Linked DNA regions of Homo sapiens: all the other regions are reported to be linked to region 4. Evidence: microRNA targets listed by miRTarBase, many of them from high-throughput screens and not tested one by one. Region 4 holds a microRNA gene; each other region holds the end of a gene's coding sequence.

Region 1 (4,687 bases), not on the chromosome of region 4:
CATGGATGATCCGAAGAGTGAACAGCAGCGCATACTGCGCCGCCACCAACGCGAGAGGCAGGAGCTGCAGGCCCAGATCCGGAGCTTAAAAAACTCGGTCCCCAAGACCGACAAGACGAAAAGAAAGCAGTTGCTCCAAGACGTGGCCCGCATGGAGGCCGAGATGGCTCAGAAGCACCGGCAGGAGCTGGAGAAGTTCCAAGACGACAGTAGCATTGAATCTGTCGTCGAAGACCTGGCCAAGATGAATCTGGAAAACCGGCCTCCCCGCTCCTCCAAAGCCCACAGAAAGAGAGAAAGAATGGAGTCCGAGGAGAGGGAGCGCCAGGAGAGCATCTTCCAGGCTGAGATGTCGGAGCACCTGGCCGGCTTCAAGCGCGAGGAGGAGGAGAAGCTCGCCGCCATCCTGGGAGCCAGGGGTCTGGAGATGAAAGCGATCCCGGCCGACGGCCACTGCATGTACCGCGCCATCCAAGACCAGCTGGTGTTCAGCGTGTCTGTGGAGATGCTGCGCTGCCGCACCGCCAGCTACATGAAGAAGCACGTCGACGAGTTCCTGCCCTTCTTCAGCAACCCCGAGACCAGCGACTCCTTCGGCTACGACGACTTCATGATCTACTGCGACAACATCGTGCGCACCACGGCATGGGGAGGCCAGCTGGAGCTGAGGGCCCTGTCGCACGTCCTGAAGACCCCCATCGAGGTGATCCAGGCCGACTCGCCCACCTTGATCATCGGGGAGGAGTACGTCAAGAAGCCGATCATCCTGGTCTACCTGCGCTATGCCTACAGCCTCGGCGAGCACTACAACTCCGTGACACCGCTCGAGGCCGGCGCCGCCGGGGGCGTGCTCCCGCGTCTCCTGTAGGCCCCAAGGCGCTGAGCAGCCCCGGGAAACTGTCGCCGTCGCCGCATCTCCTCAGTAGGCTCAGTTTATTTTCCCCTTTTGCTTTTCTCTGTTTTTCTTTTCCTTCCTTTTAATCAAAACTACCCGCCCCCGCCCCGCCCCCGCTTTCCTAACCTTGCTGCTTTCACAGGGTGGGAAACGAAATTCGAGGGAAATTCCCCGGAAATATGAGGGAAATCTCTGCATTGCACCACCAGAGGGGCATAAATTTGAAAGTTCTAACCTCTTCTTGCCCTTAAGGGTCTTTTACCTCCCTCACCAACTAAGATTTGGTCATGTTGCGTATAACTTCACCACAAAAATGGAAATATTGGCCGGGCGCGGTGGCTCACGCCTGTAATCCCAGCACTTTGGGAGGCCGAGGCGGGCGGATCACGAGGTCAGGAGTTCGAGACCAGCCTGGCCAACATGGTGAAACCCCACCTCTACAAAAAATACAAAAATTAGCCGGGCGTGGTGGCAGGCACCTGTAGTCCCAGATACTCGGGAGGCTAAGGCAGGAGAATCGCTTGACGGGAAGCGGAGGTTGCAGTGAGCCGAGATCGTGCCTTTGCACTCCAGCGTGGAAGACAGTGAGACTCCGTCTCAAAAAAATGAAAAATTAGCCAGGCAGGTTGGCGGGGGCCTGTAATCCTAGCTACTTGGGGTGCTGAGGCAGGAGAATCAACTGAACCCGGGAGGCGGAGGCTGCAGTGGGCCGGGATCGTACTACTGCACTCCAGCATGGAAGACAGCGAGACTCCGTCTCCAAAAAAAAAAAAAGAAAAAAAGGAAATGTTAAGTTTCATGTGTTCTGGGAAAAATAAATCTAGTAGACTAGCTCGGGGAGTCTTCAGGTTTTCCTATGAATGTCTTGGATTACTTAGACAAAATTGGAGTTTATGTGATCAAAATGCCTTGTGAAGGCCTTTTGCTGAGTTTTGGGGGGAAAGATTGCCATGGTTTGCTATTTACTTAAGCTAGACTACTCAGGAGATGTCTCAAGTTATGAACAAGAGATCCGCTAGTACTTTGTTTTGTTTTCTTTTCATCAAAACTTGTGTGGTTCCTAATTAATTTTAGTTTCTCCCATGTTTGCTAATTCTAAATAACAGCATTTGTTAAAACATGTAAGGTAAATCTGTTAAATAGATAAAGTAAATTTAGATAAACTGATAGGCTAGATAAGGTTTACTCTAAGATGTGAAAGATCTGAACTTAATTTCCTTTACTAAAGGTAGGAAGAGATAGGACTTTATTCAAATAGTTGATACGTTTCATTATCTTTACAACTGGTATAAAGAAAAAAGAGACACATTGATAGGTAATTTACTTACTCTAAGGGGTGAAGATCTGAATCGAGTAAGTTTCCTTTATTCTTAGAGATATAAAGGTGTATGAATTTATTCAAGTACTTGATTGACCTTGTTATATCATCTGGTATGAAGTGTGAAAGATATGAATGTAACAACTTTCCTTATTTCTTAGAGATACAGAAATATCTAAAAAGATTCTTTAAAATATTAAAGTTTTATTCTATTTTGTTACATCAAAAGTGAACAATATACTTTTGTTATTTGAGACTTGTTAATATCCTTGAATTTTCCAAAAGAATATAAAATGAAATGATTTACAGTCAACAACTTATGAAAATTTTAATCTTTACTTTCTGTAATTCAGTGAGATTAATTTTGGAAATTCTTTCTACATTCCAAATGCTCTAAGATAAAATATATATGTTTTTGAAAGTTTTTAAACATGTAGTTTGTTCAAAAATAAAAACCATTTAAAAAATACCTGCTTCTCTGTTTTTGTGTAGCTAACTTCATATAGAGTTTATATCCCAGGATCTACTTAAGCAAAGGAATCCTGGAGGGTTAGGGAGCATAGGCCTGTTGCGGGTGGCGGGGTGGTGGTTGCTGACTGGGGACAGGGGCAAAGACTGCTGAAGGGCTCTAGAAATGGGAAAGGTGCTCTACTTCAGTGGGCTGCATAGGGTCAGGGAAGGGGGTGACAAGCTAAAAGAAGAGGCCTGGCTAGGGTAGGGGACCTTCATGGACAAAGAGGCCCAGCTGGGTAGCGGGGGCACAGGCTAGGAAAGAAGTCCTGGCTGAGGGAGGATGCCTGCAAAGGGTCCAGGCTGGAGGCTGGGGCATGGACTGGTGAAGGGTTCCTGGTAGGAGAAGGTGGCCCAGCTGGGGCAGGCTGGAGAAGGAGAGGAAGGGGGCCTGGCTTGGGAAGGGAAGCTGTTTGGGAACTGGGCTACAGTCTGGGGAAGGGGTCCTGGCAGGGGTGGAGTTGGGTGGAGAGAAGGGCAGGAAAGGGGGCTGGGTCAAGAAAGAGTCACTGTCTATACAAGGAGGAATAGGCTGACCAGGGGGCAACTCAAAGGGACAAGATGCCTCGTAGCAACGGGTCTTTGGCTATTGAATGGGGAAATGGCTCTGGCAAACTGCCTGGCCAGGGGAATTGAAGGGAATTGGGAAATTGGGCCTGGATAGGGAAGGGAGCCTCACTGGGGAGGGCACACAGGCTGAAGAAGTGCCATATGGTGTGGAGGGGTCATTGAAGAAGGAAGCCTGGCTGGGATGGGGGGAGGGGGGACCTGGCTGCAAGGGTGGGGGAATGCTGGCTGGGAAAGGTGGCCCGGCTGATGATGCAGGCTTAGGTGACCAAAGGGGCCAAGCATGGGAGTGGCCTTGGCAGGGCAAGGAGGAAGATCTTGGGGAAGAGGTAACAGGCTAGGGAGGCACTGGCAGAGGAAGGGGACAAGGCTGGGCAAGGGAACCTGGCTGTGGACTGGGACACGGGGTGGGGAAGGAAGCCTGGCTGGGAGGGACATAATAGGGTGAGCGGGGGTGGGGGGAGCAGGTTAGGGAAGAACTGGCTGGTCAAGGGAAGGAGGCCCAGTTGAGTTAGGAGCCAAAGGATGAGAAAGGTGTTCCTAGCTGTTAATGAGAGGAAAGGCTGGGGAAGAACGCCTGGCCGGCGGAGGGGACATGGGCTGTCCAGTGGAGTCCAGGCTGGAGAAGGCACTGGACCAGGGAAGGAGATCTAGCAGGAAAGTAAGCATAAGCTGGGGAGGAGGACATAGACTCGGGGAGAAGGACATAGATTGGCGGAGAGGGCGAGACTGAGGAAGGGTCCCAGACATGGGGATGTGCCTGTCTTGTAAAGGGACCACAGTCTTGAGAGGCTGGCACAATCTATGGAAGACAGATGGGTGTGGGGTAGGGAGGATTGTGGGGTAAAAAGACCCCTTAGGGAAAGGTTGCCTAACTGGAGAGCGACTCTGACAGCGGAAGGGGCTGGGGAGGGAGGCACAGACTAGGAAAGGGAACCTGGTGGTGGGAAAGGTTTGAATACCGAGAAGGACATAGGCTAGAGATGGGATCATAGGCAGGTTAGTGGGCCCGGCTGGGAGAGGGGGCCTACCAGGTGGAGAGAGCTTGCTAGGAAAGAAATCATGCCTGGGAATGAGGGCCTCTCCCCCTGACAGGAACTTGGCTGAGGAAGGGCACGTGGTTGAGAAAACGGGCTTAGTTGTAGAGGGGCACACAGGATAGGAATGGGGTCTGGCTGGGGTAGGGGCAATAGGCTGGACAAGGGGCCTAGGCAGGCGAAGGCTGTGGAAGGAGGCCTGCCTGGAAAAAGGAGCACAGACTGGGGCAGAGGGCACGTTGGGTGAGGAGAGCTTGGCTGCAGGAGGGGCATGGCTAGGAACCCTTTCCTAGCCGGGGAAGCAGACTTGGCTTAGCACGGGGCACATGTGGGTGAAGGGATCCTGGTGGGAAAGATTGC
Region 2 (4,687 bases), not on the chromosome of region 4:
GGAATCAATAGAAAAGAAATGTAAGCCTGTTATGAAATTCAAACATAAATAGTCCTTCTCTGAAAGTGCAGAGAATATCCAATTTTGTCTTTCTGACAACTTCTTTAGAAATCCTATTAATGTTACTTTCAGAAATTCTATGCCAGACTGACCTTATATACAAACACAATTTTAAAATTCTTTTTAAAGTAACAGGGAAAAGAGAGAGAAACTATGGTATCACTTAATAAAGCACCAATATCAAAGTGAAAAATAAGTTGGCATTTTAAACCCACATTTGCTTTATTCATCAACATTTTTTAAAGGAACAACTCTAATGATAGGTTATTCCTAATCGAAGCTCCGGGTGTCTTGTTAAAAATACAGCAACCACAGCAAATTGAAAGCCCTCACCATGTTGCACTGTCCGATGTATTCCTTTCCACAGATTGCATGTGCCCTGGGGATCATTTCCAGCCTGCAGCGTTCAGAGGACCATGCCACTTCCCATCTAAATAAAGAGTGGCTGGAGGACAGTTCATGTGGCCAGTCCACTCCATAAGGACTCTCTTCTATCCCATGCCTTCCTGTTCACACTTACTGGAGAGACTTAAATGTTCCTTTAAATCAGGGTTTACTGCACTGCAATGACTATGGATAAATGGAACTTCTCAGGCAGCAGGGTGCCAATCTGTAGTCTTATCAATGCATAAAACTGGAAGAGGGGAAAAAGGCATACAATGGAACATAAAGGCCAAATAACTGCTCTCTTCTGCTTAGCAATGATTTTGTAGTGGATTGGGAAATATAAATATTAGTTGCATGATATAAACTGTGATACGGCCTCAAAGTTTCTCTCCAAAATAGATATTTAAAGAGAAATAATGCTGTGCTTGTATATTTAATGCTACCTACCTCGGTGGATGAAAAGTCATAAATATTTAGATGTAATGCCTCTAGAACCCCAACCATGAGTATACATATAGATACTTCTTGAAACTCTCCCTTGAGACTATAAATTTGTCAATGAATCCCACAAATGGCTCTAAGAATGTTTAAACATGGGAGATAGAGTAGATTCCAAGAATAGAACATTAAAGTTACTGTATACCTCAAATCATAATCTCTACAAATAAAACAAAAATTTTTAGTCAGTTCCACAGGAAGGTTATTACCAAGGCGGGTAATTACAAACTATATACCTCTAGAGAAACCATGTCTCCCAAAAGGCACATGATCATGATTTTCATTTGAAATAATAATTTCATGTAAAAATAGGTGAGGGAAGAAAGACACACAGACGAATGATAGAGATCTGTTAACTTCTCAGCTAGCCATTTGTGGATTCTTTCAAATTAGAGTTTGTGTACCTGTAACTAGGAAGCATATTTACATGAGGCACCTTATATTCAAATCTATAAACTCTTTTATAGTCAAAATAAACCTTATAGCATTAGCCTTTTGTACACTCAGTACCAGGAAACATTCAGTGCACGTTACAGTGATCTTGGTAAAAAGTCACTTTATTTGCTACATCTTTCAATCTGTCTGCCCTTCTGTTCTTGGCTTGAGCTATGTGGCAACACTGCCCAACACTCACCCAAACCTTGGCCTGATGGATCGCTTTATGGTCATATCAACAATCACATCCCTTCCTGTCATGAAAAATGCTGTTTTACATTATGTAATTTTGGATCATTAAATTGCTTTCCAAACATTTCAAAGACTTTCAAAAGAGAGGTCCATTACAGAAGACATAAACACACAGTATAAAATGCTGCCTTCTAACTCGGCCCTTCAGTTTGGGCATGATATGTAATCAAATTGATTACATATGAAGATGATATGGATTTTGTCCATGGATACTATGGGAGAGGATCAAATTTAAGAGAGTATATCTGAAAACCTGTCTGCAGATTCCATTCCTCTTAAGAACACACAGCAAATGAGGAAATCAGAAGTATACTTCAGAGCAGACCATGTGATTGAGCCCATCAATCTCCAGCCTCACTAGGGTAGCTAGCTTTCTTTTGGAATGACAGATCTGCCATTATAACAGCTATCAAACTTTGGTTTTAAAGAAGGGTCTTTTAAAATAGAATCTTATTTTCCTATGGATTAAAAATATATGTTTCAAAGCATCAGATTCTTTCCCCCACCAGCTGTTAGTGTAACTTCGCAGATGCTGCATCTCTGTGGTTTAGATCTAACTTAACCCTTTATGAATGGTTGAAGCTGCTCAACTCAAACAGTAGAATCTTCCGTCATCTTGCTTCAGAGTCAGTGCAGAATGACTTGTTGGGATTCACATCCCAGTGATGACAAATATTCTTAATCAACAGTGTCAAAGTTGTTTTTGTTAAAACAAGTCATTCATTTCACAGATAAGGGTGACTACAAAGTTTTGCCAAGGAACAAAACTTCAGGCCACAAAGGGTTAGAGTATTGGCAAACCAGAAGCTACCAGCTCACTGGCAGTACGTTGTCTCATGTGTCTTTGGTGCACTTGCTTAATCTCAGCAGCACACACTGCTGAGGGGCTGGCTCACTGGGATGAGATGGGATGGACGGATGGGATAGATGATTTCCAGGGAGCAGCCCATCGGCAGCAGAGTGGGCTCCTGCATCAGCAAACTGTGGAGGCCAGAAGTTTTGCTGGGCATTTTGTTCTCTCACTCAACTACTCACTCAATAAAACTGCCTCCAGACTGTGCACAGGTTAAAGGGATATCACATGTTTTGGACAAATACGAATTATGGAGAGACACATTTACAGCATTGACCACTATATTTACATTACCTGCTTATAGTCTTTGAAGATCACTGGATGGATGACGATGATGTGATTGTGACGGAATTTTTAGGCATTTGGCAAAATACACTTGTGTGTAACAGCTGCATTTTTTTAAAATTTTAAAAATGTTACATATATACAATTGTCCTTGTATGCTAATATAAATATGAAAAGTAAAAAACAAAACAAAAATAAAAATACATGTTTAAAGTTAGCCTATGGGATATTGGCCTTTCAAAGCTTTAAAGTCCTGCAGAAAAATCCTATATGCCTTAGCCCTGCATGCTCATTTCTATTATGGGATGTTGTTTCCTTAAATATGGAAAACAATAAACAGAAGCTTCATGCATATAGCATTACTGTTTACAGTGAGGATGTGCCTCAGAACGTCAAGTTCTGAATCCACTATTGTACCTTAGGAAACTTGCTACATTTGGGTCATGTGAGTTAACTTTATGAATATTTCTACATATTATCTGTCATGCGGATTATCCATTAACATACCAGTACCTTTATTGTTCCATGTTATAGTGTAATATTTCAGTAGTTCTTTTCATGGTTAGTTAAATCCTAAGCCAATGACAAAAAGAAAATGGTAACCAGATGTGAAACTCCGCTTCCTCTCCTCTGTAGCATCTCAGAGGGTCTTCGTATTGTCTGAAGAGCAGATAGATTTGCAGTGATTCCATGAGCCTGGGTTTCTATAAAAGTTGAAGTAAACAGTTTTCGATGTATCACATGTAAACAGTTGATCTTAAATGGATGTCTCCCATAGCTGCACAACAGAAAAGAGCAAAATTGCACATTGTGAAAGCAGGAAGCAGATGTATTCTGAATAGGAGATGAAAAAGATTCAGTGATTCCATCCATATATATGTGATTGTGGATGCACACTCTTGCAAAGTCTAAAAAGTGGATAGAATAAACACTCCAACTTTTAGCTCTCTGTTTCCTCAAAACCTGTGTCTCAACCTTTTTAACAGCAGCCATCTTTTGATACAAAAACCATCACATCCTCATTTAATGTTACTAAACATTTTGAATAGAGTCAATATTGTGTCTCAAATGAAATAAAAGAATTTAAAATATTATTTTTTAAGCTACACATGCCCTTCCTTTCCCCAGGATTCTGAGACAGCCAGCTAGAGCAGTGGTTCTCAACCTCAGCTGCACATTACATTAATCTGGGGAGGTTTCTACAATTCCACTTCCCAGGCACCACACCAGACCAACTAAATCAAAATCTCTCTGGGTGGGACTCAGGCGTAAGAATATTTTAAAAGCTTTGCAGATGATTCCCTTGTGCAGCCACGACAGAAAACCACTGACATCAGGGAAGTGTGATTCCATCAATTCCACCATCACCCACTTGAAAATCACTGCCATACACTCCACTTCTATCACTACCTCCTTAAAAAATAGTTCTCTCAGCCGGGCGTGGTGGCTCACGCCTGTAATCCCAGCACTTTGGGAGGCCGAGATGGGCAGATCACGAGGTCAGGAGATCGAGACCATCCTGCATAACACGGTGAAACCCCGTCTTTACTAAAAATACAAAAAAAATTAGCCGGGCGTGGTGGCGGGCACCTGTAGTCCCAGCTACTCGGGAGGCTGAGGCAGGAGAATGGCGTGAACCCGGGAGGCGGAGCTTGCAGTGAGCCGAGATCGCGACATTGCACTATAGCCTGGGCGACTGAGCGAGACTCCATCTCAAATAAAATAAAATAAAATAAAATAAATAAAAGGTTCTCTCTCACAAGCTGAGGTATCACAGTGGAAGGATACATTCAAGGCAGGATGTCCCTTCATTCATTCTGTCCCTCTTACCCTCTCCTTGCTTTTGCCATGAGCTCTTTATATTGGCCCTGTTCCGGTCAAATTTCTACAATGTTCAGCAATCACCTTAATGGACTA
Region 3 (4,687 bases), not on the chromosome of region 4:
CAACCTCTGCCTTCTGGGTTCAAGCAATTATCCTACCTCAGCCTCCCGAGTAGCTGGGACTACAGGTGTGCACCACCACGTCAGGCTAATTTTTATATTTTTAGTAGAGGTGGGATTTCACCATGTTTGCCAGGCTGGTCTTGAACCCCTGACCTCATGTGCTCTGCCTGCCTCAGCCTACCAGAGTGCTGAATTACAGGCATGAGCCACTATGCCCAGCCACTTTTAACAGTTTTGTTAAAAACAGGTTTCTAGAGAGCTCTCTCGAGTTCCCTTGGAGTGTGGTAAACATATGGAGGCCCACATGAAGGGTGGGGATATTCCATCCTCCAACCTCTCCCTCTTTAGCGCCACCTTTCTCTGTTTAGAATTCAAGTTCAAGGAGGGCAAGGGGTTTTGTTTTATTCACTACTGTTCCTAGACCAGAGCCTGACACTATTTATGTGTCATTAATATGTATATAATGAACCAAATAAATAATAAATGAATAATTTAATATTGGGTCACAGGTAAGATTCCAATTATCAAAAGAATTTTTGTTTTAGAAACAATGTTTAAGAACCACTGGCATAGATAATTCAAGTGGAAATATTCCTGGGGGCATAGTATGTGGAGGGCTAGGTTTTCTTTAAGATTTAGCAAAATCTCAGAATAAGTAAGAGCGTCCATTCCATTTAGCATGAGTCCAGTGAGCATCTCAGTGCATGGCATGGTAAACACACAGTGTGATAGATAACACAATGGCAGTCTCTGAAAGGGGAACCTGGATCAAAAAGCCCAGTATCACGTCATTCTTTGCTGATAAATGAGGTTGTCAAAGCGGTCATACACTTGAGTCTTTATAAAAGAAAGAAATAACAAGAATAAAACCTGTTCTATAATGGTACTCTTTTGTATGTACCTATGGGTGGCCAAAGAAACAATGATTGATGACTGGTCCTGCATTCACTGCCTAAAATAAAGTGCTTTAGTTTCTGGTTGAAAATGAGGAATGTCAATGCAAAACAAGAGAACACAGAATGCATATTCAATTCTACTGAAGAAACATCTTTCAACTTTGCCAAAAATGGCAAAAAAAAAAAAAAAAAAAAAATTTCTTAGAAAACAAAGACAGGCATAGAGTTTATGCATAAAGATTTTCTTTTAAAAAAAGACACGCTTCATATAGCAAGAGCAATACAAAGGGGTTATATAAATTTATTTTTCATGTAACAATTGATTCAGTTAGAAAAATTTCCCATTTTCAATGTTAATTCCATCTCTCGTTTTTGGAAAAAAATCACTAAAAGGACAAAAACCCACAGAAAAATACAATCTGTATCTGTTCTATATTTACAGATAACCAGTCATTATTAAGGCGCAGATTAAAAGTTAACATTTATTCAAATCATCAAAATATTTTGTGCATCATATAACAACAACTCTGTATACTGTAGTGTCATATTCCCTTCATTGCATCAAGAGAAAGTGAGAGAAAGAATTTCCAGTGTTTTTATTTATTTTTAGCCACCCTACTTAATCTAATTTAAGTGGGACAGTTTTCCCTTTGGCATATCAAAGCACTGTTCATAAATCAACTTAATACTGCATATTCATTACATCTTCCTCCTGTTGCAAATGCATGGTAGACAGCTGGGAAAAGAGCTCCAAGATTATTATCTGGGAAGGTCTTATTAAAAGCATAACAACATTTAGAGTACTGAGTTGTTGAACAGGACATAAATCTGGTATTGTTAACCTGTACTACATGTTTAGCATGATGCATTAATACAATCAAATAAGATGGATGATCATCACATGATCCACATGACCATTTGTACACATATGCACAGGATGAGTAAAGGGAGTGATTCAGTTCAACATCCTTAAGCAGATAAGGCTTAGTTTAGCTTAAAAAGGGCAGTCCCTCGGTGCCAGTTATAATTGATAATTTTATGACAGGCCCATTATCTATGCCTTCAAGGTAACCAATACCATTTTTTAAAGTGAGAATGTTTCTGTGTGCAAAATGCCTCTTCAATTCTTGTTCTTACTGTAATGGTCAGACTCAGCCATGGAAAAGTGTCAGGCAAGTATTTCTTATCCCATATTTGTATAAAAGTACCCAATTCTTGTATATGCTTATCTAATGCCTTCTGCTGAGAGCACGTGAGAGTGGTTTATGTCCATGTAGAAAATCTTGACTACTGAACATAAATAACTCTTTACAGTACAGGTAACTTGACAACATTTCCTATGGGAAAGTTTTCTAACAAATTAATATACTTGGAAATAATATTGCTTTGAAGAAAGAAAGGCACTTTAGTGTTTCTTCATGGATTAAAAACACTTCATAAATCTATAAGATCTCTGAAAAGACCCAGGAAACAATGTTGCCTGATTTCTTGGACTTTCACAGTATAAGATTGTAATAATGACTCTAGCCACTTAAAAAGATATATTTTTTTTTTCCTTCAGAACTTAGCTGTCTTTATGAACTGCCACCCTGGAGGCTCAAATAAGCCTGTTCATTCTCAACAAACATAAGTCTACTTCAAGCAGACAGATACGGTTTCAGGAAAGTCCTGTGGCCATACGGAACATAGCTAACGTGTACATGATAAGGATTGTAATCTATTTCTCCTTATAATGGCAACAGTGCTGTCTTGTCAGATGATTATTTGTCTTTTTAAATAAAGTGACAATCTCGGGCTCCAGTTATTGAATGTCGTCCATTCTCTACCATAAATCTCTAGTAAATATCAATTTCATCAATTATGTACTGTATGCTTATAATATCTAAAAATAAAAGTTTGATATAAATAAATGTCCTTTAGTGGCAATATACTAAAAAACAGCCCTTTGCCTCCAGACAACCATTAAAATCATTTTAGCATTACAGGCAGCAGCTAAGTATGACGACTGCAAAGGGTTAATACTGCAAAGTCCATTTGGTCTTTCTTTGCACCTATTACTGTGAACTAGGTCCATTGCTAGGTGTTTCTAGGATGCTAACATACATGAAACAGAATTGGTCCAGAAGCAAGTGGACTCACTTACATTTCCCAAAATCACAGAATATTCTGCACAGAAACTAAGATCCAGTACCATTTCAAATAAAAGTTTGATGCAGTCAGAAAAATGTGACTAACTCTTATCTGTACCAACATATTAGGTGACACAAAAATGAGAGAGATGGAGACAGCGAGAACTTCCATAGGACAAGAAATTAGAACGTGTAAAGTGCTGAAAGACCACAATAATTATTTTAAAGCAGTACCAGAAAATTCCACTTTGATTATTTTTTAAAAATCCCCAAATACCCAAACAAAACAAGCAAACAAAATAACTTCTAAGTCTTCTGGCATCCCAGATGTCAATTCATCCTTCATTTTAAGTAAAAAAAAAAAAAAAAAAAAAAAAAAAAAAATCATCAGTGCATATGTTATATAGGTAAATAAAAACAGGAAATAAAGCCCTATCCTTATATTGCAAATTCTGTCCAACTGCCATTTTAAAAAAGTAATCCATATTTGGTGTTCTGTATGACATCATAAGAACATCTTCTCTCTCTTCTTCCTTTTTGCCATAAAGTACAGGTGCGAATAAAATGCTTTGGTCCTGATACCAGACACCCAGAGTGCTAAGGATGGTGTGCTGTGAAGGCTGTTCATACATCTCCTGTGTCCACTTTACAGTTAGTCAGCGGGCATGTGCCAAGAGGGTGCTGCTACCAGCGGCCACTGACACTAGCAATGTCTGAGTGATACTGACGGGGTAGCCTTCCACTCGCTCCACCTTCCAGGAAAGAGGTGCGTGCATTTGGCGATTCAAAAAGCTTTCTTCGGTTTTTATTTAGTTCTAGAGAGAGAAAGAGAGAATTGTTAGGAGCTCAAGAGAAGTTCTATGTATACTACAGGACATGGCACTAGAGCTCAGAAAATGGTGACGTGGTAGGTTTTTTGAGGAAAGTCAAGTCTGGTATCAAAAGGAAAACTTTTAGTTGATGGTCAAGGCATTTCTGAAATACTAGAAAGTATGGTATTAAAGATAGCATATTGATAGTCTAGAGAACAAAGGACAGCAAATAGTTTTTGTTGCAACTCATAAACTCCTGACAGCAAACAGTTTCTATTATAGTTTGTAAACTGTATTGGAGGATATACCATTCTCAGAACGCTCTAACCAAATTAAATAGTTTGACCTACTCCAAAGGTCATTTCAGAGGCAAGGAGAACAAGCTAAGCTCGTGAAAGGACGTATGACTGATGGCACAGAAAATTATTACAGCTACTGAACTCATTCATGTCAAACATGGCAATCATTTAGTTTTATTAAAGTCAGATATGAAAAAGAAGACCCCATACCTAAGCACAGGGATATTGGAGGAGCACCCTGAAGAACAGCTGACCCTTGAATAATGCAGAGGTTGAGGTACCAAACCCCTCCTGCTCCCATGTAGTCAAAAATCCATGTATAACTTTTGACTCCCCCAAAACTTTACTAACGGCCTACTGTTGCCCAGCAGCCTTACCAGTAAGTTGATTAACACATGTTCTGTATGTTATATGTATTTTATACTACATGTTTACAATAAACTCAGCCAGAGAAAATACTAAGATAATCATTAGGAAGAGAAAATATATTTACTTATTCATTAAGTGCAAGTGAATCATCAGAAAGTCTTCATCCCTGTTGTCTTCACGTT
Region 4 (4,687 bases):
CCTCCATAACTACATAAATATAGATTTCTCTGATTCATGAGTTTATCTTTTGCCATTTAATGATTATATACACTAGAGAGCAGTATCTATTTTATGAACAGAAGAATAAGGGGCCGGGTGCAGTAGCTCACGCCTGTAATCTCAGCACTTTGGGAGGCCGAGGCAGGTGGATGGCCTCAGTTCAGGAGTTTGAGACCAGCCTGGCCAACATGTTGAAACCCCATCTCTACTAAAAATACAAAAATTAAGTGGCAGGCACCTGTAATCCCAGCTACTCGGGAGGCTGAGGCAGGAGAATCACTTGAACCCGGAAGGCGGAGGTTGCAGTGAGCCGAGATCGCGCCATTGCACTCCAGCCTGGGCAACAAGAGCGAGACTTGGTCTCAACAACAACAACAAAAAAGAAGGAATGTAACATCATTATAAAGAAGACATAAACAAGTATTACATATTATTTACTATAATGAGAAAATATCCAAAATAGGTCACTGAAGTAGATTCTCCCAATTGTGAACAATAGTTTTTATTGTAAGTCAAAATAGGAAATATTTTCCAGAGGTTGCACAAACAGATTAAACCACAGAAATAACATTATTTCAGATAAATGGTCAATCCCTCTGTGGTCTTAGACATTTAGTTTTGGGTAGAGAACATGGAAAACTTCCTGAAGGAAGTGATTTCTAAGCTGAGAAACATCAATAGGCACTAGCCAGGTCTGTAAGTCTCTAACACCCATGCTTTAACTCATATTTTGGATCAAGTTTTTGTATTCTTTCATTTTAGTGTTTGTTTTGTTTTTGTTTAGTTTGCTATAATATTTTATCTGAATGGAGACTAATATCCTTTGAGGAGAAACAATTTCAAGTTTATTAATTAGGTTTCTGTTTAAGACTCCATCATAATATACCATTTATTAGTTTATAATTCAGATTCTAAACCTATTGTAAGAGTGCCTACTTGCAAAAAGCAAAGAACCAGAGGTTCAGGATTTGTGAAAATAAAAATACTGTAAAATATAAATGTTTAAATATTTTCTTTTCTTTTTTTTTGAGATGGAGTTTCGCTCTTGGTTGCCCAGGCTGGAGTGCAGTGGCGTGATTTTGGCTTACTCAATCTCCATCTCCTGGGTTCAAGCGATTCTCCCGCCTCAGCCTCCCAAGCTGCTGGGATTACAGGCGCCCGCCACCACACCTGGCTATATTTTTGTAGTTTTAGTAGAGATGGGGTTTCACCATGTTGGCCAGGCCGTTCTCGAACTCCTGACCTCAGGTGATCTGCCCACCTTGGCCTCCCAAAGTGCTGGGATTATAGGCATGAGCCACTGTGCCCAGCCAAATGTTTAAATGTTTTCACTATTAGATATGTCTAATAAGAACTAAAGGAATATCTTCTTGAAATTGAAAAGGAAATAATATTTTTCTATCCCATAAGGATTGTTGGAAAGGTTTAAAGAGACAATAATATACGCAAAGTGCTTACTTAGCAAGATGCCTAGTATAAGGAAGGTAGTATAAGAAAGTAATGTTTTGTTTTTGGTGTCCATTTGGGGTTCTCTAGTAGTTTGGACAGGTTATTTTAAGAGTAATCCTTTATGAAAATTATAATGTACACATTTTATTTTGGGACAAGGATTCTAATCATTTCAATAATTTATTTTTAAGCACAGTTTACTGGGGTCTCAACAAAAGTCACATATTCAGAAGTAGTATGGCCTCTAGGCTAGGAGTCTAGAGACCTAGGTTTTAGTTCTAGCTCTGTTAATCCTGTTTTACTTTGTGCCAATCATTTCAAAAAAGGATGCTTTACTAATTGCTCTGTAAGGTGCTTTCTAGTCTGCATCGGTTTTGTTGAGACTGCAATAGCAATGTATCCAAGGTCCAAACTAATGATTTGCCATCTGGTTTCATTTAGCAAAGTTAATGTTCGGTCATCAAGTACATATTCAGTAGGAAGTATTCTTTTTCGAAACAGTTTCTACAGTCATTTTTTTTTAACCCTGTATAAAATGAGTTTATTTTGGACTGTTAAAAAAATTCAAAACTTTAAAATTTGTTATTTTTCAACTAATGCAAAAGAATATATTAGAAACATCTGAATAAAAAATGATTCTGGGCTGGGCACGGTGGCTCACACCTTTAATCCCAGAATTTTGGAAGGCCGAGGTGGGCTGATCACCTGAGGTCAGGAGCTCGAGACCAGCCTGCCCAGCATGGTGAAACCCCGTCTTTACTAAAAATACAAAAATTAGCTGGTGTGGTGGCGGCTGCCTGTATTCCCAGCTACTTGGGAGGCTGAGACGGGAGAATCGTTTGAACCTGGGAGGTGGAGGTTGTAGTGAACAGAGATCATGCCATTGCACTCCAGCCTGGGCAACAAAGAGCGAAACTCCATCTAAAAAAAAAAAAAAAGATTCTGTTCTTTTCTGTATTTACTGATGTCCCTAAACATTTTACATTTTTTTTTAAAATTTAGGTTATCTCCCTATTAAAACTATTTACAAGTGACAGTGATGACTCCTGTTACTCAAAATTAAACCAAAATGAACATCAAACTGGGATTTATTGGGGCCCAGAAACAAGAAGATATAATTCATTCATTTGAAAATGATAAAGAGGGACTGAAATAATAGTGAGAAAGCTGCCCTGAGACCAGAGTAACTTTGTTTCTTTGATGTATCATTTACAGTAATAACCCAACGGGGTGCCAAGGGGCTGCCACTCTTTGGCTATGCTTTATTGTCCATTCACACTTTGTCTCCATGTTTCCTTCCCCCTTCCTCCTGTATACATGTATACAGAAGGGGGAAGGAAACATGGAGACAAAGTATGCATATACATATAGAAATTCTGGAGCAGTAACTTACTGATGTATACAACTTATCGAATCTCTCTGAGTTATGCTACTACCCCTAGTGTGTTGGGCATGTTGGCTCAAACTTCCTTAATCAGGAAACTTTGGAATGGGTTTATTGCTAGCTGTCTTTGCTTGGGTTTAATCTCAATATTTCTGAGGTGCAAAGTGCACTAGATTGAGAGTTAATAGATCTGAATTTTAATTCCAGTTTTGTTCCCAATGATCACTGTGACCTCAGGCACATCATTTCACCTTTCGTCGTTCATTCAGTTTATCTTACCTATTCATTAAAAACCAATCTGCCTGCCCCCAGTTGCTTTCTAGTGGTAGTGATGATGGAGGTGGTGAGAGACACAATAAATACATAAGCAAATAGGAGAACTATGAAGGAAGGAAAAGTTAGTGATGTACTAGGGATAGTGTACTTTTGATAGGGCATCTAGGATTTCTCTAGATAAGTGAAAAATGAAGAGGTTTAACTGGATGCTAAGGGGTCTTGCACATTAAAAGGCATGTGTTTCCGTCTTTTCACTACTGTGTTCTAGGAAGGCCCACCAATGCCTCTAACCTGTAAATAAATGCAAATCTATTTAAATCAAGTGATACATCAATTTTATGTTGCTTGATTTGGAAGTAATCCGCAAAGAAGCAATAGCTAAACATTTTAGTGTTGTTTGGGGAGTAGCTGCTGAACAATAAAGACCAAAACCATAACTAAAAAACAAACAAACAAACAAAAAAACGCAGCCCGAGACAGATCAGAAACTAGGTGTATGTAGGGCGCCAGGTTATGACACTGTTCTCTGACATCCACAGGGCGCAAAAAGAAAACCTCACTAGTCAGCTTCGCACGTGCTCTGCGCAGGGGCTCCTGCGAGGCCCTAGTCCCTCCCTGGGAGCTAAGAGCAGGACGGAGGCTGTACCTGACTGCTGCTTGGAGGGAACCCTGGCTGAGTCCAGGGAGGAGGAGCCAGAGGAGGGGCCGATTGGAAGCAGCCACCTCAGCGAAGCTGCAGGATTTCCGCAGGGCGGGAGCTGTTTATCTCCCGGAAGAAAACGGCTCCTGTCACAGAAGTCTCGTGATTGCTCTGGGAGCTTTGCTTAGACACTTGAAACTACAGGAGAAAGAAGGATCTAGCGAAATATGGCTACAGAGAGCCCTGCTACGCGTCGGGTCCAGGTGGCAGAACATCCTAGGTGGGGGAGAGGAGACGCCGGGCTTTGGGATCTGCTGGGTTGGCTACGTGTAGATCGGGTCCACAGCACTTGGCTCCTCCCTTGGGGCGCTGCTTTTGGTCCCGGGGAGCAAGTGGAACCCTTGGGATTCTATAAGGACACGTGGCTGGGCTTGCAAAAAAGATCACGCCGCAAACACATTCTACCTTGACTACTACGAAGGGTTGTATGTTTTTTTCTTCATCCATGCAGATTCTTCTTTTCCTTTTCTTGTTGTAATTAGTGTACTCTTTCTACTGGGCTTCAGCAGAAATGCCCATATCCACACTGAACTCCTCTCTTTGTCTCGCATGCCAGTTGATACTGCTTTTTAAAAGTCTTCTTTCTAAATATTAATTGAAAACAAACACAAAAACCTTCTTGGTGTCTGCATCCTCTTTAAAACAAAACAAAACAAAAACACGAGAATCTCTGAACTGTCACTTAGGGAATTAATTTGCTGGCAGTCCCTAGCTACACAGTAACTAATAGTTTAGTGATGTCTCGGGGAGGATCTTTTCAGTTACAGGTACTTTGTAGAAATACTTCGTTCTGACTAATGGGGCTGAGGTCTCATAAAATGAAGTCTGTCACCTGCTACATTAGCGAAGGGCTTTCC
Region 5 (4,683 bases), not on the chromosome of region 4:
GAATAGCCAAAAGGCCTTTACAAATGAAGAATGAAGGTGGAAGATTTATAATACCTGACTTCAAGACTTGCTGTAAAGCTTCTGTAATCAGGCTGTACTGTCCTCAAGGTACTAGAGTGTCCACAGACTGGAGTGTAGGGACGCGATCACCATCACTCCTGGGCTGAAGCAATTTGCTGACCTCAGCCTCCCAAGTAGTGAAGACCACAGGCACACACCACCACACACGGCTAATTTTTTTTTTTTTTTGAGAGATGGGGTCTCACTATGTTGTCTAGGCTGGTCTCAAGTTCCTGGGCTTAAGCAATCCTCCTGCCTCGGCCTCCCTCAGTGCTGGGATGACAGGTGTGAGCCACCTCACCAAGCCCCACTGGATTGCTGATATTCTGGCATCTTGGACCTCCAAGAGCAGAGAGAGGGACTGCCCCTGCCAGAGCCAGCCAGTTGTTAGAGCTAGCAAATGACCCCTCTGAGAGTGTCCCTTTTTTTTTCTGAAACAGTCTCACTCTGCTGCCAGGCTGGAGTGCAGTGGCACGGTCTCGGCTCACTGCAACCTCCACCCCTGGGTTCAAGCGATTCTCCTGCCTCAGCCTCCCAAGTTGCTGGGATTACAAGTGCGTGCCACCATGCCCAACTAATTTTTGTATTTTTAATAGAGACGGGGTTTCACCACGTTGGCCAAGATGGTCTCCATCTCCTGACCTTGTGATCTGCCCACCTCGGCCTCCCAAAGTGCTGGGATTACAGGCTTGAGCCACGGCTCCTGGCTGAGTGTGCCTTTCATATGCAAACCAGCTAATCCAGGGCCCCAACACTGAACCAGCTCTTCTAGCTGCCTCTCACCCTTCAGAAGGCAGTATTTCTCTGCCTTCATCATCCTGGGCCAGACACCAAATAACAAATGACAGCCTCTAATCCCCAGAGCCTGCTAACGTTATTCTAACTAGCCAATCCTAAACCTGCATACCCTTCCTTGCCTTTTCCAGGGAAAGCATAACAAAGGGTCTCACCCCTGTGTTCCCTTGGCTTCCTCTACTCCCTGAGGGACCCTGGTGCTTTCCCAAGTGGCCCTGCATGGCTGTGTCTCTCGTTTCTGGGGATCTGTGAGGATACACTGCTTCCCTTATGACCCTCATTTCCATGGCCATACCTGATGGAAAGAAATGGCAGGTGCATTTTGTTTTATTATTATTATTATTTTGAGACGGAGTCTCACTCTGTCGCCCAGGCTGCAGTGCAGTGGCACCATCTCGGCTCACTGCAACCTCTGCCTCCCAGGTTCAAGCGATTCTCCTGCCTCAGCCTCCCGAGTAACTGGGACTACAGGTGCCCACCACTATGCTCACCTAATTTTTGTAGTTTTAGCAGAGATGGGGTTTCACCATGTTGGCCAGGCTGGTCTTGAACTCCTTACCTCAGGTGATCCACCTGCCTAGGCCTCCCAAAGTTGCTGAGATTACAGGCATGAACCACCGCGCCCTGCCAGCAGGTGCATTTGATTTATTTTTATTTTTTGAGACGGAGTCTCGCTCTGTCACCCAGGCTGGAGTGCAATGGTACAATCTCGGCTCACTGCAACTTCCACTTCCTGAGTTCAAGTGATTCTCCTGCCTCAGCCTCCTGAGTAGCTGGGATTACAGGCACGTGCCACCATGCCCGCCCGGCTACTTTTTGTATTTTTAGTAGAGATGGAGCTTTGCTATGTTGTTCAGGCTGGTCTCGACCTCCTGACCTTGTGATCTGCCTGCCTCAGCCTCCCAAAGTGCTGGGATTACAGGTGTGAGACACTGTGCCTGGCCCAGCAGGCGCATTTTAAAAGAGCTTTTAACTCTCTGGACAATCCCAGGAGGTAGGCAGCATCTCTGTATGGTCCTCAATTTATACAGAAAGAAACGGAGGCCCTGAGGGTGGTTCTGAGCCTAGCCTGAGGTCACATGGCCCAGGAACGTCCACTGTGGCATCAGGTCTGAGCTTGGGGCCTGTGCGGCCAACCACTTCCCCATTCAGTGACATCAGCCAGCAGTCCTCTGGGCCTCTGTGACAACCATGCTTCCCTTTTCTGTGTTGTCTTCCTTCTGCACAGGGAGGTGCTTGAGGGCTGGGGCACTGGCTGGTGTAGCTTTGGGTCCTTGTCACCCAGTGCAGTGTGCCTGTCACCCAGGGCAGTTAGTGCTGACCAAATGCGTATGGAGAGGGTGGAGGCATCTTCAAGGGGTGGGGATCAGGTGACGATCATTTTCAGTAGAGATGGGGTTTCACCGTATTGGCCAGGTTTTTTGTTTTGTCTTTTTTTTTTGAGACAGGCTCTCTCTCTGTCACCCAGGCTGGAGTACAGTGGTGCAATCACAACTCACTGCAGCCTCAGTTGCCACCTGAGGGCTCAATTGATTCTCCCACCTCAGCCTCAAAATGTGCTGGGATTACAGTCATGAGCCACTGTGCCTGGCCCAATCATGCCTTTATAATGAAGCCCATAAAAACCCAAAAGGGATGCAGAGGGCTTCTGGATAACTGAACTCATGGAGCTTCCTAGAGGGTGCAGTGCCTAGAGAAGACACGGAAGCTTTGCACCCCTTCCCCCAGGCCTCCCTCTGTGTATCTCTTATATCTGGCTGTTCATAACTATCCTTTGTAATATCCTATATCTTTATTTTGAGACGGGGTCTCGCTATGTTGCCCAGGTTGGTCTCAAACTCCTGTGCTCAAGTGAACCTCCCCCCTCAACCTCCTGAAGCACAGAGATTACAGGCATGAGCCATGGCGCCAGGCCCTATAATATCCTTTATAAGGGGACACATGTAAGTAAAGGGCTTCCCTGAGTTCTAGGTACCATTCTAGAAAATTAATTGAACCCAAGGAGGGGATCATGGGAACCTCAATTTTTATAGCCCTGTGTCAGAAGCACAGGCACCACGTGAGCTTGCGACTGGCATCTGATGCTGGGGCAGCCTTGTGGAACTGAGCCCTCAACCCGTGCGATCACAGGAAGCAGCCAATTTGCTGTAGTAGCCGTGGCCAACACACTGTCTCTGACAGTGTTCTTGCCCCTGCCCACTCCTTCTTAACGATTCCCTCTCAGCCAGGCATGGTGGCTCACGCCTGTAATTGCAGCTATTTGGGAGACTGAGGCTGGAGGATTGCTTGAGCCCAGGAGTTTGAGACCAGCCTGGACAACTTGGTGAAACTCCAGTACCACTAAAAAATACAAACATTAGCTGAGTGTGGGGGTGCACGCCTGTAATCCCAACTACTTGGGAGGCTGAGGCATGAGAATGGCTTGAACCCAGGAGGCAGAGGTTGCAGTGAGCAGAGATTGCGCCACTGCACTCCAGCCTGGGTGATGAGAGTGAGGCTCTGTCTCAAAAAAAAAAAAAAAAAAAAAAAAAGATTTCCCTTCTTAAACTTGCTTCCAACTGCTTTAAATCTGTGAGTGCCATCTGTTTCTAGTGGGGAGGCTCCCTGCATCATGACTGGACTCAGGTACTGCAGAGCAGGAAGGGGCACTTGGCAGCCATGTGGGAGATGCACAGGGAAGTGTCAGCAGCATTTCACGCTATTTATTCCCCAAAACCTTCTGCCATAGAAGACAGCCACCATACAGATTGGAAAATGTGGACGAGGAGAAAAGGGGTGTATGGTAAGCAAAATAAATTGTATTTTTCCATCCTTGGGGAGGATAAAGGAACTCTTTGCACTGCTATAATAAACAGCCCCCAAATGCCAGTGGTTTAATTCAGTGGAGTTCAGACCTCATTCCTATATCATTGCAGTGTGGATGCTCCTGGATGAAGGCTCTTGTAGGTAACTCTCCTCCAGTCGGTGATTCAGGGACCCAGCCTCCTTCTGCCTTGCGGCTTTGCCTTTTAAAGGTCCTCAGGGTGCTCTCCATGTATCTTGCCAATGGGGAACGAGTGTGGAGGACTCACAAGCGGGTCTCACATCACGTCCTCCGGGGCTAATACACATCCCTTCTCCCCACACTCTGTTGGTCAGAAGTCACTGCTTGGCGCCCTGCTACCTGCAGGAGGGGAAGTGTTTTTAGATGCAGGGCCAGGATTATTAGTGAGGCAGGCGAGGCAGTTGCTTCAGAGATCAGATTTAAGTGGGAGGTGGCAAAAACTCAGGAGAATTTGTGGCAGGCTGGGCTTGTGGGGTTCTTAGCAGCACAGTCCCTGATTTCCAAACCCGTCCCCTGCCCGCACCTGTACTCCCCACTCCCTTGGGGAGGCCCAGCACTCAGCTGGCTGGGGTTGTGGCTTTAGTCCGCTGCTGACGTGTAGGGGGACCAACAGTGAGTCAGGGTGGCATCCAGGTGATAGCAGTCTCCATCCCACCTTCTCTGCTGCGCCCTAGGCTGAGGCCCTCCTTAGAGGGACCAGAGCAGCAGATCAGCTCTGCCCAAACCCATCAGGAAGGGCCTGGGACTCAGCTGGCACCCTGAGGCTCCCCCCCGACCTGTTCTCCCTGTTGTCCACCACGTCATCTCCTGAAACCGCCCCCGCAAAACCTTGCTACCCTCTGTTGGCTTCCTTCGCTCTTGAGCTCTCTGCTCAGCCCCAACCTGGCTCCCTCTATCGCTGAGCCCTCGCCCACCCATCTCTTCCTTCCCTCCCCTTCCCTTGACATAGGCACCCCCACCTCTCCCTCCAGGTCCTCAGGGAGACCGCGCCTGTGGTTTCCTTC
Region 6 (4,000 bases), not on the chromosome of region 4:
TTTGGGCTATTTTCCGTTTGTTTCAGATACAGATAAAATCTTATTATATCTATGATCTGTCTAGCCTCTTTCACCGTTACCCACTTCTTCTATGTCTTCACTACATGACTCCACTAAAATTGTGTCTTGTTTTTTATCCCTAAGTTAGATTAACTTGGTCTAGATCCTTCACAGTCCTAGGATCAGGAAAACAGCTTCATCCCTATTCAGTTAACTTAAACCAAGAATATGTTTATGGTCCCTCTTTTGTATAATCTGGAATTGGTAAATTGGTGATCACCCAATATTGTTTTCCCTTGATATATCCTGAGACCTTACTGCCTTGAAACATCTAAGGGTAAATCTGGAAAACTACTATGCTGGCCAGATGGAGTTATCTATGGGAAAATGAGGCTTACGTAAGACAGACAAAATCCTTGACTCTTTCCCAAAACCATGCCAGAAAAAAGCTATAAATCCACACTAAGGACCACAAAGGGAGCAGCTTTCTCAGACGCTTATAAAAAGCCCCTGTGAGGACACCCTTGGCAATTTGGAAGTACAGACCCTGATCCTTCCCCTCCATCATTTTGGGGAAATAACTAACCAATGACAAAAGAAAAAAAAAAATCCTGGCCTGCAAAACCACAGGTTGAAAGGAGGTTAAAGGTGTAGATCTGAAGAGTTTCCCTGTGGGATTATTAGAAAATAAAATGCTCCCAGGGAAAAACACTGTCAGCCAATGTTCAGCCAGCTCAGCACTTAGATTATCTTTGGTGTGCAAGTAAACAGACTTGAAATTGCTTTTGAAATCTCTCCAAGACTGTCCATCCCACTCAGTCTTTTATGTCACCATCTAGTGAGTTAAGTTGTGAAAAACTCCAATTTTCCTTAAATATAGTTATACAAGGCTAAAATGCAAGGCATTTTCCATGATCACACTTCACCTTGCCACTTATGATACATGTTGGGCAGTAACCCTTTCCTGATGCGATCTACCAAACAGAACCAAAACTTTATGGGGAAAATACCCATCTTAGAAGACTTAAAAAGGAAAGACCTTAAGAATTAAAACATTGCCTTATGAGGGAAACAAGTTGAACTTTACAAAGAAAAAAATGTTAACCGGGCACCTCTGTTGCACAATGAATAGAGTTAATGTTTCTAGCCAACTCTTCGTTGTCCATTCCCACCTCAATGACATCCCTGTGCATATTAAGCACAATCTTCTGCCAAATGGACCCACTCTTTATAGAGCAGGATAATGATGGTGAATAGCATTTGGAGTAGAAATAAAACAGCAGATAATAATCCATAATTGTTTTTAATCTTGAGGATGAGTCACCCTCAATTTATTTCCAAATTTCTTCTGTCATCAGCTGTTCATTTCTTTACTTTGAAAATCACCAGATTAACACTGCCAAAGGCAAGAGGTAGGAAATGATCCAAGAGGACAAGTCAGAGGTATCACATGGTGAGTGGCTGAGAAACTGGAACAAGACAACCCTCAGGAAAGTCTCTTTTTTGTCCCAGCAAAGGCACCAATGTGTGAACCTAATTCACACTTTCATTATTCTAATCAGGTTATTTTTATATCAGTGTAATTTTAGAACAAGACTTGCTAGGGGATTATTTATTTCTTAGGAAATTCTGTCCATCACTCTGCATATCCAAGGTCTAGCACCAGAATTCATTTCAAGCCAAGAAATTATATTCCTATTACCTCTCCTTTGTAATACTTTCACATGCCTTCTTTATTCCCTGAATCTTCCTTTTGTACAACGAATTTCAAAACAGAATGACCAGACTTTCTAACATCACAATTATAAGAAATGTGATCTAGTTGAATGTGAGGTGTCTGAACCTGGGTGAATCTGCATTGCTCATCAATCTCTCTCAGTCCTTAGAACGCCTGTAAAGCATAAGCTTGCTATTTTATCTATATTCGAATTGCCTTTTTTAAGCTGATTGGGTTCTCAAACCCATTTAGCCTCTAACTCCGAGTCAGGGTTGGAAATAGGAAACTGGAGTCCAGATGTTCTCCCTAGGATCTAGGTCCAAGTCACAGTCCAATTATTGCAGACAGGCTAAAGATGGAGGTTTCTGACTGTCTTTAACATCCTCTTAAAAGCACAAAGCTGCAAACTGAGATTAGTAGCCATTTACTAATGTCAGAAGATCATTCCCCAACTGAAATTCTCTCTTCACATTTGCCTCAGATTATGCCTATATAGGCAGCAAAGTAGAAAAACTAAAATACCACCCAAATAATCCAGAACAAGTAAATATTGTTTTCTTTCTTTTTTTTTTTTGAGACAGAGTCTCGCTCGGTTGCCCAGGCTGGAGTGCGATGGCACAATCTCGGCTCGCTGCAACCTCTGCTTCCTGTGTTCAAGTGATTCTCCTGCCTCAGCCTCCTGAGTAGCTGGGATTACAGGCGCGTGCCACCACGCCCGGATAATTTTTGTATTTTTTAGTAGAGACGGGGTTTCACCATGTTGCTCAGGCTTGGTCAGGCTGGTGTCGAACTCCCGACCTCAGGTGATCTGCCCACCTCGGCCTCCCAACGTGCTGGGATTATGGGATTATAGGCGTAAGCCACCACACCCGGCCTATGTAAATACTGTTTTCATCTGAAATCTGCAGATAATTGAAACCAAAAAAGTGTTTTGACTATATGCTGTTTTCCCCTTTACTATGAGTTTTTTTTTTGTTTGTTTGTTTGTTTTTTTGGAGAAAGCCTTGCTCTGTCACTCAGGCTGGAGTGCAGTGGCATGATCTTGGCTCAGTGCAACCTCCGACTCCCAGGTTCAAGCGATTCTCCTGCCTCAGCATCCCGAGTAGCTGGGATTTCAGGCATGTACCACCACGCCCGGCTAATTTTTTTTTTTTTTTTTTTTTGAGACGGAGTTTCGCTCTTCTTGCCTAGGCTGGAGTGCAATGGCACGATCTCGGCTCACCACAACCTCCGCCTCCCTGGTTCAAGTGATTCTCCTGCCTCAGCCTACCGAGTAGCTGGGATTACAGGCACCTGTCACCACGCCCAGCTAATTTTTTTGTATTTTTAGTAGAGACAGGGTCTTGCCATGTTGCCCAGGCTGGTCTTAACTCCTGAACTCAGGTGATCCGCCCGCCTCGGCCTCCCAAAGTGCTGGGATTACAGGCGTGAGCCACCGCACCCGGCCGCTAATTTTTGTATTTTTAGTAGAGACGGGGTTTCACCATGTTGGCCAGGCTGGTCTTGTCTTGAACTCCTGACCTTTACTATGACTTTGTAGGCACAGTCATAAATGTTTGCAACCACTGAGCTTTCAAATTAGTGGTACTCAACCTAGAGTTCACTGGATAGTAGGGAGCCGCTGTCTTGGTTTCAGTTTAATTAATGCATATGCAAATGAATCAAGATATTCTGGCATAGCCCCAACCTTACCAAAACACACATATTAAATGTCAGTTTATGACAAGTATCTGTATACTCAGTCATGCTAGATGATGGAACTGTGTAAAAGGTGATGAGGAGGAAAGTCTGTCACAACTCCTGGGAAGTATCCCTCCTCTCCACCTTCTACATTAGCTAAAATGAGTGAGCATTAGCTCCTGACGAATACGGTCAGCCTCTAAGTCCAGGGACTCCATGTGCTCATACTCCTCTTCCGGGGGCTGTTCCATGGGTCCTGTCATTGGAGAGGACCAAACATCCATCCCATGCTCCAGGGAGATGTTGTGGAGGACACAACAGGCCAAGATGATATGGCTGGATTTCTCTGGTGAGTACTGCAGTGCCCCCTTGGATCCATCCAGGCAGCGGAATCGGGAGCAGAGGGTTCGGAAAGTCTTCTCAATCACACTGTGAGTTGCAGAATGGGCCATGTTATAGCGATATTCTGCTGGAGTTTCAGGAATGTGAAGTGGGGTCATGAGCCAGGTTCGAAGAAAGAAGGAACTGTCACCTGTGGGGAAGGCCCAAATAAATCATAAATGACTATAAGTGGAATAGAAACAGGAAGTGAAATTCAGAAAA
Region 7 (4,687 bases), not on the chromosome of region 4:
TGGGAAGAGGTTTTGAAATGTTGAGAATTACTTCTACAAGCTGCACTATTTTCAATTTCACTAAAAATAAAATTTAGCATTTTTGTTACAAAAACATAGTTCATCCTATTTCTTTTAACCTAGTTATTACATGAAAAATTGTTTATCATCTGTAACTTGCTAAGAATATGGTTTCTTGAAAACCTTAAATGGACTAATAATGAAAAACTATTAAAATATATATAGTGATGGGCCCCTCCTAGTTACCAGACCACCCTAGTGTAAATATATTCAAGTACACATTCACTGTTGCTGTTTAATTTAAAACATATAGTAACTCTATGTATATCCTAGCCTCCAACTCTTTATGAGTTTCACAACTTCCTTTCATAGAGAAGTCTGCCAAGCCATTAATCAATAAAAAGAGTAAAAGCTGCAACATCTAGGAAATTTCTTATTATATGAGAGTAGCCAGTAAAATGTGTCTCAGTGCTTTCTACCTTTTATCTCTATTTATAAATTTAAGTTTCAGGATATCAATAAAGCTCATACATGGCTTTGGCTTTTTTCATTCCTAAGCTTTCCAAAGTATAAGGCTTTTTTTTTTTTTAAATCCCTTTTGTCTTTAGCGCATTTCCTATGGCCCAACGTAGCTGTTTTATTCCAAAGCTTTTCAAAGAGCAGCTCCAGGTCTTGAGAGTCTTTCCAGTGTCGTCACTATCTTCTCTTTCCAATCTACCATTGCAGAATGGCTGGTTCTGCTGCTAGTTGAAAAATAAACAAATGCTTTCTAGCCGTACTTTGTTCAGCTCTTTTATCTGTGTCCCCTATCCAGTTGCCCTTTCCGCAGTCCCTGGCACTTCTATTTTATACCATCAGTTGCCTTTTTGTTCCATGTCTTTTATCTCCTGAAGTTCAGGCAAACCCCAACCCCAAACCCACACATCCTTTAGTCACATTGCCATTAGTGATTAAAACAATAGCCATTCTAAGCTTGCTTTAGAAAATTAAAAAAGGCCTCAGAAAATGTTCAGTGCTCCCAATTTTATTTTTATTTAATGCTAAAAGTTAAAGAAAAAAAGGTACTGTAAATCTGACAAATGACAGAATTCAGGTGATATTTCCATAGCGTGATTTTAAAATATAATAATGTTGGTATCTGAGATTACACTCACTTCAGTTGACATGAGTTTCATCATATATAGAAAAAGTATCACCTTCAACTTAAAAAAAGTAAAGGTTAAAAGGTGGCACACTTTTAAAATACTTGGTGGCCAAGGAAAGGTATATAGTAAAAGTTGTAAACCATGTGTATGTTCTCATAACTTTAAATGTGAGGCCACATGAAAGACAGTACATCTGTTAAATTCTATAAATTGTTAAAAGCAAAAAAGGGAAAGCTTCAACACCCCATCCCCTAATATTTTGAGTATTAAAAGCACAGCTGAAATATTAGGATTTGAAATCTGATACTGCCCATGTACAGTAAGTAGCTTTGTGACATTTTTATCCAGCTGTGGAGAATCTCTGCACTGTCATCAGGTACAACAAAAGATCAAACCCATGTCCCGATGTTAACTTTTTAACTTAAAAGAATGCCAGAAAACCCAGATCAACACTTTCCAGCTACGAGCCGTCCACAAAGGCCACCCAAAGGCCAGTCAGACTCGTGCAGATCTTATTTTTTAATAGTAGTAACCACAATACACAGCTCTTTAAAGCTGTTCATATTCTTCCCCCATTAAACACCAGTACAGAGAAACCACAGGTTGCCCTTTCCACAGCTGGATAGACTTATCCAAAACGGCAGGATGGTTCTGTATTAATCTTTTTGGAAAGCATGTCTGTATTAAGATTGCAAAACATACAGATAGCTACCACAAATTAGGTCAAACGACTGATCAAGTTGTAACATCTGTGAGGTCAAATTCCAAAGTGCCTAGATACACATTTATACAACAGACCATAAGAGCTGAATTCTTTACAAATGTCTTTATGGGCATGTAAAATTGACTCTGCATTTCTGCATGTGTGCATTCACATAAGAGAGACCAGTCTGCACTGAGTCATATATACTCCAACTTGAAAAAGTAAGTGTAACAACTGGTTAATCATGCAAGTCTGTTTGTAATATAACAATGACTGGTAAAACATGAATTCTCGCACAGTAGTAATAGGTGCACTCATTAAAAACACTACGGAAAAACACTGTATTTGGTGCAGTATCTGATTTTCAAGTGTTAGTAACTTGACCATTAAAAAATAGTTTTGAACAATTTAAAAAGGAAAGACAAACATATAACTAAAAAAGAATCCAAAGTTGGTAAAAATCTGTATTTTCAAATGTAAATAGAAGCTAGGCTGTGAACCATACACATAAATTGTAGACCTTGAAGCCATAATTCAGCCTAATTATAAGGCCAAGTTACAAACACCTGAACGTAAGGATTTAAAATAGTGTTCCTGTCAATGTTAAATCATAACAGCACAAAAGAAAAACCAGTATCACTGTGAGACAACTATTTCTAATAATTGATGATTTATTGGTTTTAAAAAAATCATTTTACTGATGCAAAATAGTGATCAAAAGAAATTAGTTTACAAAAAGACTTCTAAAAATATTTTGAGAGGTGGGGCCTGTCTATTATATAAAACCCTTAATTTCTTTAATTTCCACTAGTTTATCATTTTTTTCCAGAACAGTATTATTCACTTGGTATTTCAAACACATGTTAAGAAGGAAATTACAGGTTTCCTCCACCCACATTTGGGCTGTCACTGATATGCCCAAGGGCAGTCCTGGCAGCACCACGCGGCTGTTACTGTCATTGTACCATACTGTATTCAGCACTCACTAGAAACAGGGTATAGGTGATAGTATCAACAGCAATAGCACTACAGGTAAATGATAAACAAAACAAAACAGAAACAAAACCAATCCCACAATCTCCAAGTTCACCTGGACTGTAACTTCTCTTGCAACTCTTTCAAAATAAAGGACAACAGCAACAACAAACAGACCTCTAGGGTGTTTAAAAAGATGAAGTGGCGCTGCAGAGCTGGGCTCTGCTCAAAGATGGCAGTGCCATCTTGTACACACCACCATCCATTATAACCGCCTTCCATCACTGGAATTGTATCTTATGTAACCAACTAGCATGCAGCATTGTAATCTTACAACTGATCACGTGGACAGTGAACAGCGGTCAACTTTGTCTTAAAAAAAAAAAAACAAAAAACCCCAAAAGACCACACAATCCTGAAAATTTCCCAGCAGCACTCTCAGTCATCAGTATCTCAGGAACTGAACTTTTGAGCAAAATAGAGATTCAAAATCCACTTTCCTACTCCTCTGAGGACAATGTTTCAGGGTAAACTGGTGGTATTTCCCAGTGGCATGCCCACTTGACAACATGCCCGTTCGATCATTTCCTTTCCTTCTCCACCACTTGGCCTCCGGCCTGAGAAAGGGGCCAGCAATAAGGAATGACAGACAGTAAGGCAATCTTACAATGTCAGAAAATGTATTTGGCTTTTTTTTTCTTTTTAAAATAAGTGCATACAAATACAGCTAGAAGCATTTCTGATTTGCCAAGTGCTCTAAAAAAGCAGCGCAAGTCACAGCCTACATAGAACGGTAACTGTCACCAGGATAATAAAGCACAAAGATATGCTAATAACGTTAACAAAAGAAAAAAATGTCTTTATAAGTACATACCTTTTGTCGTCAAAAAAAATATAGAAACACAATGTATTCAAAAAAAATCAAAATTATACAGCCATGTTTATGAAGTCTACATTTCCCTTGTCTTGGATATATATATATATGGAGATATATATACAATTCAAGCAGTTTTAATTAAGGGTAATCATTGGGTTTTTCTGAAACCGGAAAAGTCACGAGTCTCTCTCTTTTTTCACTTTCACATCTCCAGCAAGGATGGTTGCAATTTCCCCTTGCATAAAGGCCCAGGGGACATTGGAGCCCACAAGAGGGCATTTTTCCCCACTGGGACAATAGACCTCTCCACTAGCTCCCTGCTGTTTGATGCTTTGTCTGGAGCAAGGGAAGCAGAACTTGTGCGAAGGGACGGACGGGCACTGCACAAAATGGGTGTCCTCCAGCCGCTCGTGGCAGAGGGTGCAGCACAGCGGGGCACTGGTTGCCAGAGAGGAGTCCGGGAGGCTGGCAGGGTGCACTGGCTCCAGTCCTCCTGTGTTGCCTGCTCCCTGGCCCCCCACCTCTCTGGGGCCCAGCCTTCTTTGGTTCATAGAGGACGGAGAGGGCGGACTGTTGCTATTCCTCCTGGTAGTGGAGTGAACCTGGTTGGCATCTTTTGAGGCATGACTGCCCCCTGCATTGTCTGCTACTAAGATCAGGGCTGCCATGGGGGACTGGCCATTCTGGGCCGCTTCAGGCGGTGTGGTCCGGTTGGAATGAGGTGAGGCAGTGGGTGGTGGCGGAGACACAAAAGAGGATGTAGGAGTCATGGGGATCTTGAGCCCCTCTGTGGATGTGGACAGCCACGGCTGGGCCTCTCCGTTGATCTTAGGGGGCCCGACTTCACCTTCTGGTTCTGGAGAGGGCTTCCTTTTCCTTGCTGTTCTTGCAACTGGAAACACAAAGAAATAAAAGGAAAAAGGTAACATAAGTGGCGGTGCACTGAAAGAGATCATTCTCTTCCTAACCCGAAACAAAAGTCGTTAC

Evidence for each region. Region 4 holds the annotated microRNA hsa-miR-4716-5p (UCCAUGUUUCCUUCCCCCUUCU, at 2,796-2,817, opposite strand). A microRNA usually pairs through its seed, bases 2 to 8, with sites in the 3' UTR of a target mRNA and lowers its output. Matches are read on the target gene's strand: a 7mer-m8 pairs with bases 2 to 8, a 7mer-A1 pairs with bases 2 to 7 and ends in A, and an 8mer does both.
Region 1: miRTarBase lists OTUD6A as a target of hsa-miR-4716-5p. Seed matches in the 3' UTR shown: 7mer-m8 at 1,313-1,319.
Region 2: miRTarBase lists ADAM22 as a target of hsa-miR-4716-5p. Seed matches in the 3' UTR shown: 8mer at 3,293-3,300 and 7mer-m8 at 393-399.
Region 3: miRTarBase lists BICC1 as a target of hsa-miR-4716-5p. Seed matches in the 3' UTR shown: 7mer-A1 at 2,165-2,171.
Region 5: the mRNA of PILRB is a reported target of hsa-miR-4716-5p. Seed matches in the 3' UTR shown: 7mer-A1 at 3,885-3,891.
Region 6: miRTarBase lists HARBI1 as a target of hsa-miR-4716-5p. Seed matches in the 3' UTR shown: 7mer-m8 at 3,201-3,207 and 7mer-m8 at 3,064-3,070.
Region 7: miRTarBase lists IRF2BP2 as a target of hsa-miR-4716-5p. Seed matches in the 3' UTR shown: 7mer-m8 at 3,759-3,765.

Annotation. Positions count from the first base shown.
Region 1 is chrX:70,062,524-70,067,210 of GRCh38, forward strand. OTUD6A (OTU deubiquitinase 6A) reads left to right here. Exons shown (of 1, transcript NM_207320.3): 1 at 1-1,656. The coding sequence starts at 2. The coding sequence ends at 868. Among named protein-coding and RNA genes, the nearest start is that of OTUD6A, 2.4 kb to the left of the region's middle.
Region 2 is chr7:88,195,332-88,200,018 of GRCh38, reverse strand. ADAM22 (ADAM metallopeptidase domain 22) reads right to left here. Exons shown (of 32, transcript NM_001324418.2): 32 at 1-3,548. The coding sequence ends at 3,528. Among named protein-coding and RNA genes, the nearest start is that of SRI-AS1, 19 kb to the left of the region's middle.
Region 3 is chr10:58,827,914-58,832,600 of GRCh38, reverse strand. BICC1 (BicC family RNA binding protein 1) reads right to left here. Exons shown (of 21, transcript NM_001080512.3): 21 at 1,166-3,840. The coding sequence ends at 3,710. Among named protein-coding and RNA genes, the nearest start is that of LINC00844, 170 kb to the left of the region's middle.
Region 4 is chr15:49,166,326-49,171,012 of GRCh38, forward strand. MIR4716 (microRNA 4716) reads right to left here and starts at 2,828; the gene lies at 2,745-2,828. It overlaps GALK2 (galactokinase 2), which reads left to right and starts at 3,922. Exons shown (of 10, transcript NM_002044.4): 1 at 3,922-4,050. The coding sequence starts at 3,998. RefSeq lists enhancers at 3,334-4,238, 3,870-4,109.
Region 5 is chr7:100,366,684-100,371,366 of GRCh38, reverse strand. It overlaps PILRB (paired immunoglobin like type 2 receptor beta), which reads right to left. Exons shown (of 4, transcript NM_178238.4): 4 at 3,536-4,018. The coding sequence ends at 3,990. It overlaps STAG3L5P-PVRIG2P-PILRB (STAG3L5P-PVRIG2P-PILRB readthrough), which reads right to left. Exons shown (of 17, transcript NR_036570.1): 17 at 3,536-4,018. It also overlaps a transcript of PILRA not described here. Among named protein-coding and RNA genes, the nearest start is that of PILRA, 4.5 kb to the left of the region's middle. RefSeq lists enhancers at 212-963, 4,573-4,652.
Region 6 is chr11:46,599,981-46,603,980 of GRCh38, forward strand. It overlaps HARBI1 (harbinger transposase derived 1), which reads right to left. Exons shown (of 3, transcript NM_173811.4): 3 at 2,881-3,929. The coding sequence ends at 3,550. Among named protein-coding and RNA genes, the nearest start is that of AMBRA1, 8.0 kb to the left of the region's middle.
Region 7 is chr1:234,603,261-234,607,947 of GRCh38, forward strand. IRF2BP2 (interferon regulatory factor 2 binding protein 2) reads right to left here. Exons shown (of 2, transcript NM_182972.3): 2 at 1,009-4,592. The coding sequence ends at 3,877. Among named protein-coding and RNA genes, the nearest start is that of IRF2BP2, 4.6 kb to the right of the region's middle.